Linked DNA regions of Homo sapiens. The protein of the gene in region 1 purifies or fractionates together with the protein of each later gene. This does not show direct contact. Each region holds a gene or a part of one and is shown in the gene's direction. Other genes may lie near its edges.

Evidence for each region.
Region 2: the proteins of MLC1 (region 1) and DTNA purify together in Homo sapiens (affinity purification with western blotting, with the first as the bait; one study listed by BioGRID). This does not show direct contact.
Region 3: the proteins of MLC1 (region 1) and PTGES2 purify together in Homo sapiens (affinity purification with mass spectrometry; one large-scale study listed by BioGRID and IntAct). This does not show direct contact.

The regions. Positions count from the first base shown.
Region 1 is NC_000022.11:50,061,314-50,065,042, reverse strand, and holds part of MLC1 (membrane protein MLC1), read left to right. Parts: intron 1-844; coding exon 845-1,009; intron 1,010-3,385; coding exon 3,386-3,460; 3' UTR 3,461-3,729. UniProt on the Homo sapiens protein: Transmembrane protein mainly expressed in brain astrocytes that may play a role in transport across the blood-brain and brain-cerebrospinal fluid barriers. Regulates the response of astrocytes to hypo-osmosis by promoting calcium influx.
Region 2 is NC_000018.10:34,874,284-34,878,012, forward strand, and holds part of DTNA (dystrobrevin alpha), read left to right. Parts: intron 1-955; coding exon 956-1,115; intron 1,116-3,435; coding exon 3,436-3,525; intron 3,526-3,729. UniProt on the Homo sapiens protein: May be involved in the formation and stability of synapses as well as being involved in the clustering of nicotinic acetylcholine receptors.
Region 3 is NC_000009.12:128,122,462-128,124,729, reverse strand, and holds part of PTGES2 (prostaglandin E synthase 2), read left to right. Parts: intron 1-179; coding exon 180-238; intron 239-878; coding exon 879-1,028; intron 1,029-1,595; coding exon 1,596-1,796; intron 1,797-2,083; coding exon of another isoform or gene 2,084-2,129; exon of another isoform or gene 2,130-2,244; intron 2,245-2,250; coding exon 2,251-2,268. UniProt on the Homo sapiens protein: Isomerase that catalyzes the conversion of PGH2 into the more stable prostaglandin E2 (PGE2) (in vitro). The biological function and the GSH-dependent property of PTGES2 is still under debate.

The DNA.
Region 1 (3,729 bases):
TGAGGCAGGAGAATCGCTTGAACCTGGGATGTAGAGGTTGCAGCGAGCCGAGATCGCGCCACTGCACGCCAGCCTGGGTGACAGAGGGAGACTGTCGCAAAAAAAAGTTTTATGTTAACTTGAGAAGAGCTGTTCGTTCTGTTTCTTCTCTTACTTTTTGTAGCAGTGACATTGGATAGATGTTTGGCTCTTTTGTGTGTTAACATTTAGTTGCTTTGTTTTTCTTGAGCCAACACGGGAAAGCTATCCATGGGCACAGAGGGTTTTGGGTGCTCCGTGGTCACTCTCTGGCCCCCTGCATCCTCGGCCGCTCCCTCCATCCTCTTCCCTGCCGAGCTCACCGCGCTGCCTCCTGCCCCTTCCTTCCTAGCAGCTGGTGCTCAGGGGTGAAGCTGTTGGGGGTCTGTGCACCCCATCCCCCCAGGACGGCTGCCCCCTGTCTCCTCCGCTCAGGATCCTGCTGACACGGAACGGTCAGCGCTTCTGCCTCCCGCGGACATTCTCTCTGGCTCTGGGACTGAGCCTTGCGCGTGTTGGAGCAGGAGGGGTGGAGCGACTTGACCACTAGCAGCCAGCACTGTCCACGGGGCCTGGCAGTGGCTCGGTCACTTTTATTCCTGTATGTTGAACACAAGCTGATGGAATTTAAAGCAGAATTGACCTCATTAATTGAGCTAGAATGATTATCATCAGGTTGTTGAAATAGCAATGCGTTTGGGTTACTGGGGCTCCGACTCGAGCCCTGGCACCTGCTCTTTGTGAAGGCCGTGGGCACGAGGGAGCTTTGGTCTCCTGGGCTGGAGGGCGGCTGGGCCACTCTGCTCACACCTCCTTCCGCCTGCAGCCATCCTACGATGTGCTGCTGCTGCTGCTGCTGCTAGTGCTCCTGCTGCAGGCCGGCCTCAACACGGGCACCGCCATCCAGTGCGTGCGCTTCAAGGTCAGTGCAAGGCTGCAGGGTGCATCCTGGGACACCCAGAACGGCCCGCAGGAGCGCCTGGCTGGGGAGGTGAGTGGCCTGCAGGGGGAGGGGGCACTGGGGAGGTGAGTGGCCCACGGGGGTGCCCAGCCAGGGAGGTGAGAAGCCTGTGGGGTGGGGGGAAGCTGGGGAGGTGAGTGGCCCACAGGGGTGCCCAGCCGGGGAGGTGAGTGGCCTGCAGGGGGAGGGGGTGCTGGGGAGGTGAGTAGCCCACAGGGGTGCCCAGCCGGGGAGGTGAGTGGCCTGCGGTGCAGGTGCTGGGGAGGTGAGTGGCCCATGGGGGGCCCAGCCAGGGAGGTGAGAAGCCTGTGGGGTGGGGGCACTGGGGAGGTGAGTGGCCCACAGGGGTGCTCAGCCAGGGAGGTGAGAGGCCTGTGGGTTTCAGGGGTGCTGGGGAGGTGAGTGGCCCACAGGAGCACCCGCTGGGGAGGTGAGAGGCCTGCGGTGGGGGCTCCTGTCCTGGTGAGGGCCTCCGAGGGCCACACGACGTGGCCCTCGAAGATTCATTGTGCCACTTTGTATTTTTAAAAACACCCCAGAAAAACCCCGAAGAAGTAAAATGTCTTTCTTTTCTTTTTTTTTTTTTTTTTTGAGAAGGAGTCTCAGTCTGTCACCCAGACTGGAGTGCAGTGGCGCGATCACGGCTCACCACAACCTCCGCCTCCTGGGTTCAAGCAATTCTCCTGCCTCAGCCTCCCGAGTAGCTGGGACTACAGGCACCCGCCACCAAGCCCAGCTAATTTTTCTATTTTTAGTAGAGATGGGGTTTCACTATGTTGGTTAGACTGGTCTCGAACTCCTGACCTCATGATCCGCCTGCCTTGGCCTCCCAAAGTGCTGGAATTACAGGCGTGAGCCACCGCGCCCAGCCGTAAAATGTCTTTTAAAAATACAAACACAAAGCCTGGGTAAACCCAGACCCATCCCTGGGAAATATTCTGGACTTAATGCTTTCAGATTTGCTCTTAGAGACACAGAAGAGGGCTTTGTGAGGACTCCCACAGGTCCTGAAGTTTCCTTCCCTGGTCTCTGGTGGGGACGCGGTTCTGCAGGGAAGGCAATGCCCACCCAGCCTGGCACATGGGGCTCCGTAAAGCTGGGGTGTCAACAACTTCTGGCTGTCACTGCCTGAACAATGTTCCCCCGGGCCCTGCCTACTGTCTTGCTGCCCCCACATCTGAAAGGCAGAGGCTCAGCGTCTTCCCCCCACCGAGCTACGGGTCCTGGTGGTGCTCCCCTGGGCAAACCTGCCCGCTGACCCTCAGGTGCAGTGACCACTAGGACTGTCACCTTGATGCCCAAACACCTGGGCAGCCACTCAGCGGGGCTCTGAGTCCTGCCCCACCTCTAGGCCATCCTGGGCGGACCGGCCGCTGCTCTTGCCCTGCACACCCTGCCCTCCTGTGTTCAGCACACCACCGGCCTCAGAACCTTGGTGCAGAGCCTCCAGTGCCCGCTAAGTCCCGGAGGACGCTCTCTTGCCCTTGGCTCGTTTCTCAGCTGACCCCGTCGCCCCCACCCTCCACCCTCCCTACTGCTGTTCCCTTAACCTGCCTCCTCAGTTGCTTTGCTGCCATTTTTCCTGGCTGTGGTCAGTCTCCCTGCTAGGACGGCAGTCCCTGGGCCTGAAATGAGACCCGCCTGGGTTTCTGTTGTGACCAGCAAGGCCCAGAGTCAGACGCATGAGGTGTTCTCCCCAGATCCCAGAACTGCTGGTCCCAGGGGCTCAGGGTGGGCGGCTGGGGCTCAGGGTGGGCGGCTGGGGCTCAGGATGGACGGCTGGGGCTCAAGGTGGGTGGCTTGGGCTCAGGGTGGGCGGTTGGGGCTCAGGGTGGGCGGCTGGGGCTCAGGGTGGACGGCTGGGGCTCAGGGTGGATGGCTGGGGCTTAGGGTGGACGGCTGGGGCCCAGGGGCTCAGGGTGGGTGGCTGGGGCTCAGGGTGGACAACTGGGGCTCAGGGTGGACAGCTGGGGCTCAGGGTGGACAACTGGGGCTCAGGGTGGACAGCTGGGGCTGGCGCTGTCCTCCCTTTTGCCTGGAGGCATCTGGTTACCTCTGCCTTAAGTGTTTTCTTCCTCAGCCGTCAGGCACATGCCCAACCTTGGGCGGCCTCCCCCCGCTCCCCGCCCCAGAGCCAGGGCAAGGGGCCGAGTGAAGGGCTGCTCCATCCCAGGCTCGGTAGAAACCGTGTGTGCGGGGGGGGATGCAGGCGTTTCTGGGACACTGAGGAAGTGAAGGCTTTTATCTCTTTCCACAGAGGCCCAGGGGTTAGTTTCCCCACTTCCTTCACATTCGAAGAAAACTTCTGAACGCTGGCTGCTCGCTGCCTGTGGCCGAGTGGCGTGTCCACCTTCCCGCCGCACAGGTGGCCCTGGTGAAGTAACACCTTTCCTGTCTCGGTTGCAGGTGGCCAGGAGCCCCCTGAAGGAGTTCGACAAGGAGAAAGCCTGGAGAGCCGTCGTGGTGCAAATGGCCCAGTGACCCCCAGACGCGGAAACCGGGTGGCAGCGCCCAGCCTGGCCCCAAGCATGGAAACGCACAACCCCTAATCGCCCTGAGCTACTGCTTCTAACACCTCTTTTCCCTTGTGTGAGGGCAAACCAGGCTGCAGGTGGGGTTTTCACTTCCTAGGGTAGTTTAATTTTAAAATAGGCCAATGTTGGCTAGTCTGTGCCTCAGTGAGATCAGTCAGCTCCGAGTGGCTCCCGTGTCGTAACAGCAGGAGCATGGCCGCAACTTCCCAGGCCGAG
Region 2 (3,729 bases), on another chromosome or scaffold:
ATGGAATTGATGTGAACACCTAATCTGTTGTGTATGCACTCAAGGGTCTCCTTGCATTTTCTTACGCATGTGGCTGACTTCTTTTGTCAACTAATTATTAAAACAGGGAGAATATTTCCAAGGCACCTCATTTAGAGACAAATCCTTAAGATTCAAAGTGTGACAGTCTCAGAATAGTTTCATGCCAAAAACTGTAGTGCAAAGATAAGTTCCTTCAGTTGTTTTCTACTTTTTTCTTTACTTGTCTTTAAATCCTACTATTCTTATTGTCCTGCTAGAATACTGCTTTTTCATAGGAGAAGAGAAGGACATTTCCTGCAGGAAATAATACCAAAAAATTAGAAAACAAGGTTTCTTCTTCTTCTTCTTCCCCATTGGAATCCCTGAGTTACTAATTTGACAAAATCAGCTTTTACTATAAAATAGGGATAAAACAATTTACACTTCATTTGATTCTTAATTTGAGACTTAATATGCACAATATTGTATGACATGATTTAAACTCTTATCCTCTAAAGATAATGCTAGTACAGTCAGGTTGAAAATTCAGAAAGCATCCATTGCAAATAGTCTTCTAGTTTGTATTTTAAACTTTCTCCTTAATGTCTTCTTAGTCCTCGGAGACCTTCCTTCAAGGAGAAAGTATCCACACCTTGTAATTATCTGCATTTAACAGTACCTTCATTTTATGGGCACATGTCCCATATACTGTAGAGCAATGCTGTACTAATAGTTTTAGCTTTCAATATTTAACCCAAACTTCAGATTACATACAATAAGGTCCTAAATTATCTGCACCTGCAAATTAGCTTTAGGATTACCAACACAATTACCTAGGATTTCCTCCTGCTTTGAAATTTCATTGTCACTGTTTTCAACAATCAACTGAGGCATTGGGGATGACATATGACATTTTCTTGGGAAAGCAAATTAATGACCTGCATTGTCTCTCCAGACTCAGGGGGCAGGCTCTCCCCGCTCCTCCCCCAGCCACACCATCAGCAGGCCAATTCCCATGCCCATCCGGTCAGCGTCAGCCTGCTCCACCCCGACGCACACGCCGCAGGACTCCCTCACAGGAGTAGGGGGAGATGTACAAGAGGCATTTGCACAAAGTAAGTGGCTTTATTTTTTGTTGTGGTCTGCTTTTATGTGGCAAATAGGTCACCAAGGTCTATTGAGTGGTCAAGAGTTGTCAGAACCACATGTGACTATTGTAGGGTCTTTCATGGCTGGTGTCAGAGCCTGGCCTGCCAGCCATTTTGGGAACTCCCTACACCAATTTGTTCTCACTTCACGATTTTACCTTCCTTTGGCTTTTGTTGCCCTGCCTTATTTTTTAGTAAGTCTTTGTTCATCAAAAGACAGGAAATCTTTTCACCAATACCCCCAGAAAACTTCATAAATGTAATCTATTTTTTTTAATTCTTAGAGATTTTCTTATCTCATATTGTCTTTTCTTTATATTAAAGTCAAGACTGAGATAAGTAATCACAGCTCTTTAGCAATGAGGTAACCAAGAAGGACATTTAGTCATTTGACAGATTCCCTGTTCTGATGCCCCGAAGAGTTGAATCATTGCCTCTGTAAGGCAGGGCTACAGGGTTAAGCCTCTGCAGTTAGAGGAGTACAAAGAGGGATGGGGATGCCAGCCAGCACTTTCCCATGACAGGGAGAGTAACTTTATTAATTTAGAAATATTTTTAACACTTTTTAAAACCTCTTCTTACTATCACTTTTTAAATTTATAGAGAATAATAATAAAAAAATCATTCTGTAGACCTTCACCGGCAGCTTTCATTCCCAGAAGTAACCACTATTAACAGTTTGATCCTTCCCAAAGTTTTGCTTTTGTGTAAATAGATATGTTTAAGGATGTGATTATAGACACATACTCTTTTTTTCACACAAATAGGATCATGCATTGCATTTTGGGGTCTGCAATTTGCATTTTCTTTAAATTAGCAATATATCATTAACATTCTTCGAAGTCTTCACATAGAGATCTAAGGAAAAGAGAGACATGTTTGAATATGGGTTTTAAGGCAAAAGAGATCATAAACAAAGTTAAAAGACAGAAAACAGTCTTGAGGAAACCATTTCCAGTATATGTGTCAATCAAGTTTCATAATTTCAGTTATACAAAAATCATGTAGAGATCAGAAAGAATAGACACCACCAAAACAAAAACAGGTGAAATATACGAATAGACAGAAGAACAAAGAGAAATTGCCAATAAATATATGAAAAGATGTTCAACCTCTAATTACAGAAATATAAATTTTAATAAGTATCACTTTTTGCCTAGAAGATTAAAAAAATGTTTTGAAACATCATAATATCCAGGGATAGCAAAAGTGCGAGGAAAAAGGTACTCTCGTCCATGTAGAGGGGTGATAAAATCTTAACACACTTCAATGAGAGAGAATGATGAACTCTCTACTCTGAGGGAAAAGGAAGGATCTATATTAGAACTTTTTCTTCTAGGCACTGAATATAACTCAAGAGTTTTTAAAAATGTAATTCACAAAATAACTTTTAATTTTTAGAAAGAAAATATCCCTTCTCTTAATCATATTTTAAAGAAATGTACTATATTTTAAATCAATTTGTGATTTCCATTATAATTAATGTTTTTACTTAACTACTCTGATTTTTTTAATTTAAACATTTATTATTTTATTTAGTTAGTATTACTTTCTGAAAAATGACGGAATGAAATTCCATTAACCCTTAGTGTGCCTGAAACAAAATAATAATCTTTCTCTGCCATAAAGAAACATAGTCTAAGTTCCAATTTATAGTACCAGACATGCATCTGCCCATGTCTTGGCAGAAGAAACAAGAATCCTCACCCCTTTCTCACGCTCTGGGGGCATTCAGTGCATGTGGGTTTCCCATTCCCAAGTGGTACTTACACTGGCAGGAAGAGCTCCAAGAGCCCTGATAGGAGACAGCGCATGTCCTAGTAGAGACCAGAATCTAAAGGGCTCAGCCACCAGGTAAGGGCAAGAAAAATAATAGCAGCTAGGAAGGCGCAGCTCTCCTGGAAAACCTGATTTTTCATCTGTGTGGATTATTCTTAAGAAGGGTGACCACACGCACTGGTTTACCTGGAACCATCCCAGTTTTGCCAGGTCAGCCAGCCTTATTCATACTGCTCTCTTTCACCTTCAAAATTGTCCCCATATGGACAAATAATATATGAAACTCCATCATTAGCCATGTCTTCTTACTGCAGGACCCACTGCCCTAAGCAGTGTTTTGTTGTTGTTGTTGTTCTTGTTTCAGGAAATGAACTAAAGCACTTCTGAAAAGGAGAAGTCTTAGAAGTTTTCTTGCTTTAGGTTATTAATGGGAAGGATAAATAAACAACATAAAAATTTAGGATAGAAGGAAGCTTTGGTTTTTTAAATTATTTCTTCTTCCCTGAAGGTTCAAGAAGAAACTTAAGGAATGACTTGCTAGTGGCTGCAGATTCCATCACTAACACTATGTCCTCTCTTGTGAAAGAGCTGAATTCTGGTGAGTTCCTGATTCCCTCTCATTTGTCTGCTCATCATGGAGGGATCCATAAGTGCTAGGGGTCTCTCTTAGAGATCTGCTTATTGTCTAATATCAAAAGATTCTTTAAAGCTCTATGTGATATTTTGTTGGTCTATTCAGATTTGAGGGGTTTTTTTTTTGTTTGTTTGTTTTTGGTTTTTTGAGACAGGGTGTCTCTGTGTT
Region 3 (2,268 bases), on another chromosome or scaffold:
CATTGGCCACAACCACGTCTCCCTACTTAGGATGGGTGCCCTGAGGGCAGGGCGGGGAGGACTCCGGGCATGTCCCCAGGAATGGATAAACAATGCCCAGAGTGTCTTGTTAAAGAGCCCCTGGTGACTCCCAGCGGCTGGGTTGCAACCTCTGATTAAACCACCCTTTTCTCTTCCAGCAACAACTAAATGACTCCTCTGTCATCATCAGCGCCCTCAAGACCTACCTGGTGTCGGGGTAAGGAGCCCCTCGGAGACCAGGTGGCCATTGCTTTTGGTGGCTTCCTCCAGGGAGGCCTCCCCTGAGTTCCCTCCTGGGAGCACGTGGAGCTGCTGCTTAGATTTCCAGAGTACAGAGTGGCTCGCACCTGTAATCCCAGCACTTTGGGAGGCCGAGGCAGGCAGATCACCTGAGGTCAGGAGTTCCAGACCAGCCTGGCCAACATGGCGAAGCTCCATCTCTACTAAAAATACAAAAATTAGCCAGGCATAGTGGCGAGTGCCTGTAGTCCCAGCTACTCAGGAGGCTGAGGCAGGAGAATCGCTTGAACCCGGGAGGCAGAGGGTTGCGGTGAGCCAAGATCGTGCCACTGCACTCCAGCCTGGGTGACAGAGCGAGACTCCGTCTCAAAAAAAAAAAAAAATGATTTTCCAGAGTAGCCCGTGGCCGTCCTCCTCCAAGCCCCCTACTTTGTCCTCCCCACACCTCCCTCTCTTGGGGAGGTAGCCCTGGCATCTACTCCAAATCCCTCTTACTGCAAGAGTCCGGAGAGCCTTTGTTGGTCCTGGCTCCACTCTGAGGCTGGGGCAGCGGGGTTGGTCGGCCACAGGGGACGGAGGGGGAAGGAGTTGGGGTGATATTGTGGCTCTCTCCGAAGGCAGCCCCTGGAAGAGATCATCACCTACTACCCAGCCATGAAGGCTGTGAACGAGCAGGGCAAGGAGGTGACCGAGTTCGGCAATAAGTACTGGCTCATGCTCAACGAGAAGGAGGCCCAGCAAGTGTATGGTGGGAAGGAGGCCAGGACGTGAGTGGGGCTGGGGCTGGCGGGGGAAGGTGGTGACCGCAGGGGTCTTCTGTAGAGTAGGACCAAGCTGAGCAAGATGGCGTGAGCAGGGAGCAGCATGGGAGACCAGCGGGGCTGGGGCCGGGCCATGCCGGATTTCAGTAGAGACCTTCCTGCAGCCGGGCGTGGTGGCTCACTCCTGTAATCCCAGCCTGTTGGGAGGCCGAGGCAGGCAGATCACCTGAGGTCAGGAGTTCAAGACCAGCCTGGCCAACATGGCAAAACCCCATCTCTATAAAAATGCAAAAATTAGCTAGGTGTGGAGGCACACACCTATAATCCCAGCTACTAAGGAGGCTGAAGCAGGAGAATCGCTTGAACCCAGGAGGCGGAGGATGCAGTGAGCTGAGATGGTGCCATTGCACTCCAGCCTGGGTGACAGAGCGAGACTTTGTCTCAAAAAAAAAAAAAAGACCTTCCTGCTCAGGCTTCAGCTTCCCGCCCGTGCAGTGGGTATGTTCTAGAGAATGCAGCCTGCTCCCAACACAGCCCGGGTCCTGGCTTAGGAAGTCCCTCCCGTGCCCGCAGGGAGGAGATGAAGTGGCGGCAGTGGGCGGACGACTGGCTGGTGCACCTGATCTCCCCCAATGTGTACCGCACGCCCACCGAGGCTCTGGCGTCCTTTGACTACATTGTCCGCGAGGGCAAGTTCGGAGCCGTGGAGGGTGCCGTGGCCAAGTACATGGGTGCAGCGGCCATGTACCTCATCAGCAAGCGACTCAAGAGCAGGCAAGTGTGTGTGCACATCCGGGGCCTGCTGTCCCCGAGCCTCCGGTGCCACGAGCAGTGGTGATCCCATCACACCCCTCAGGAGACCAGCGGGAGGCCGAGGCCTAGGGCAGGTGGGAAACGCATTATGGATTATGGGTCCCTTGGCCAAGATGGGACTTGGACCCAGAGCTCCTGCTCACCTCCCCTGGGGACAGCAGGGCTGGCCTTGAAGCCGGAAGCCTGGGCCCTGACTGGCGCCTCCTCTGTGGCTTTCTCCCTGGCCTGGTCTCTTGCCTTTACCACAGCCTCCCCGTCTGGGACGGATGCTCCCTGAGGCGTCTGCAGATGTGATGCTCTCACCTGGGGTGCCGTCCTGGCTTCCACACCTCCCCCCTCTCCCCAGAGGAGACCCTCTTCCCTGCTGGGCTGGGAGTGGGGGCTCCCCTGAGGGGCTTTTCCCTTCCCCGCCCAGGCACCGCCTCCAGGACAA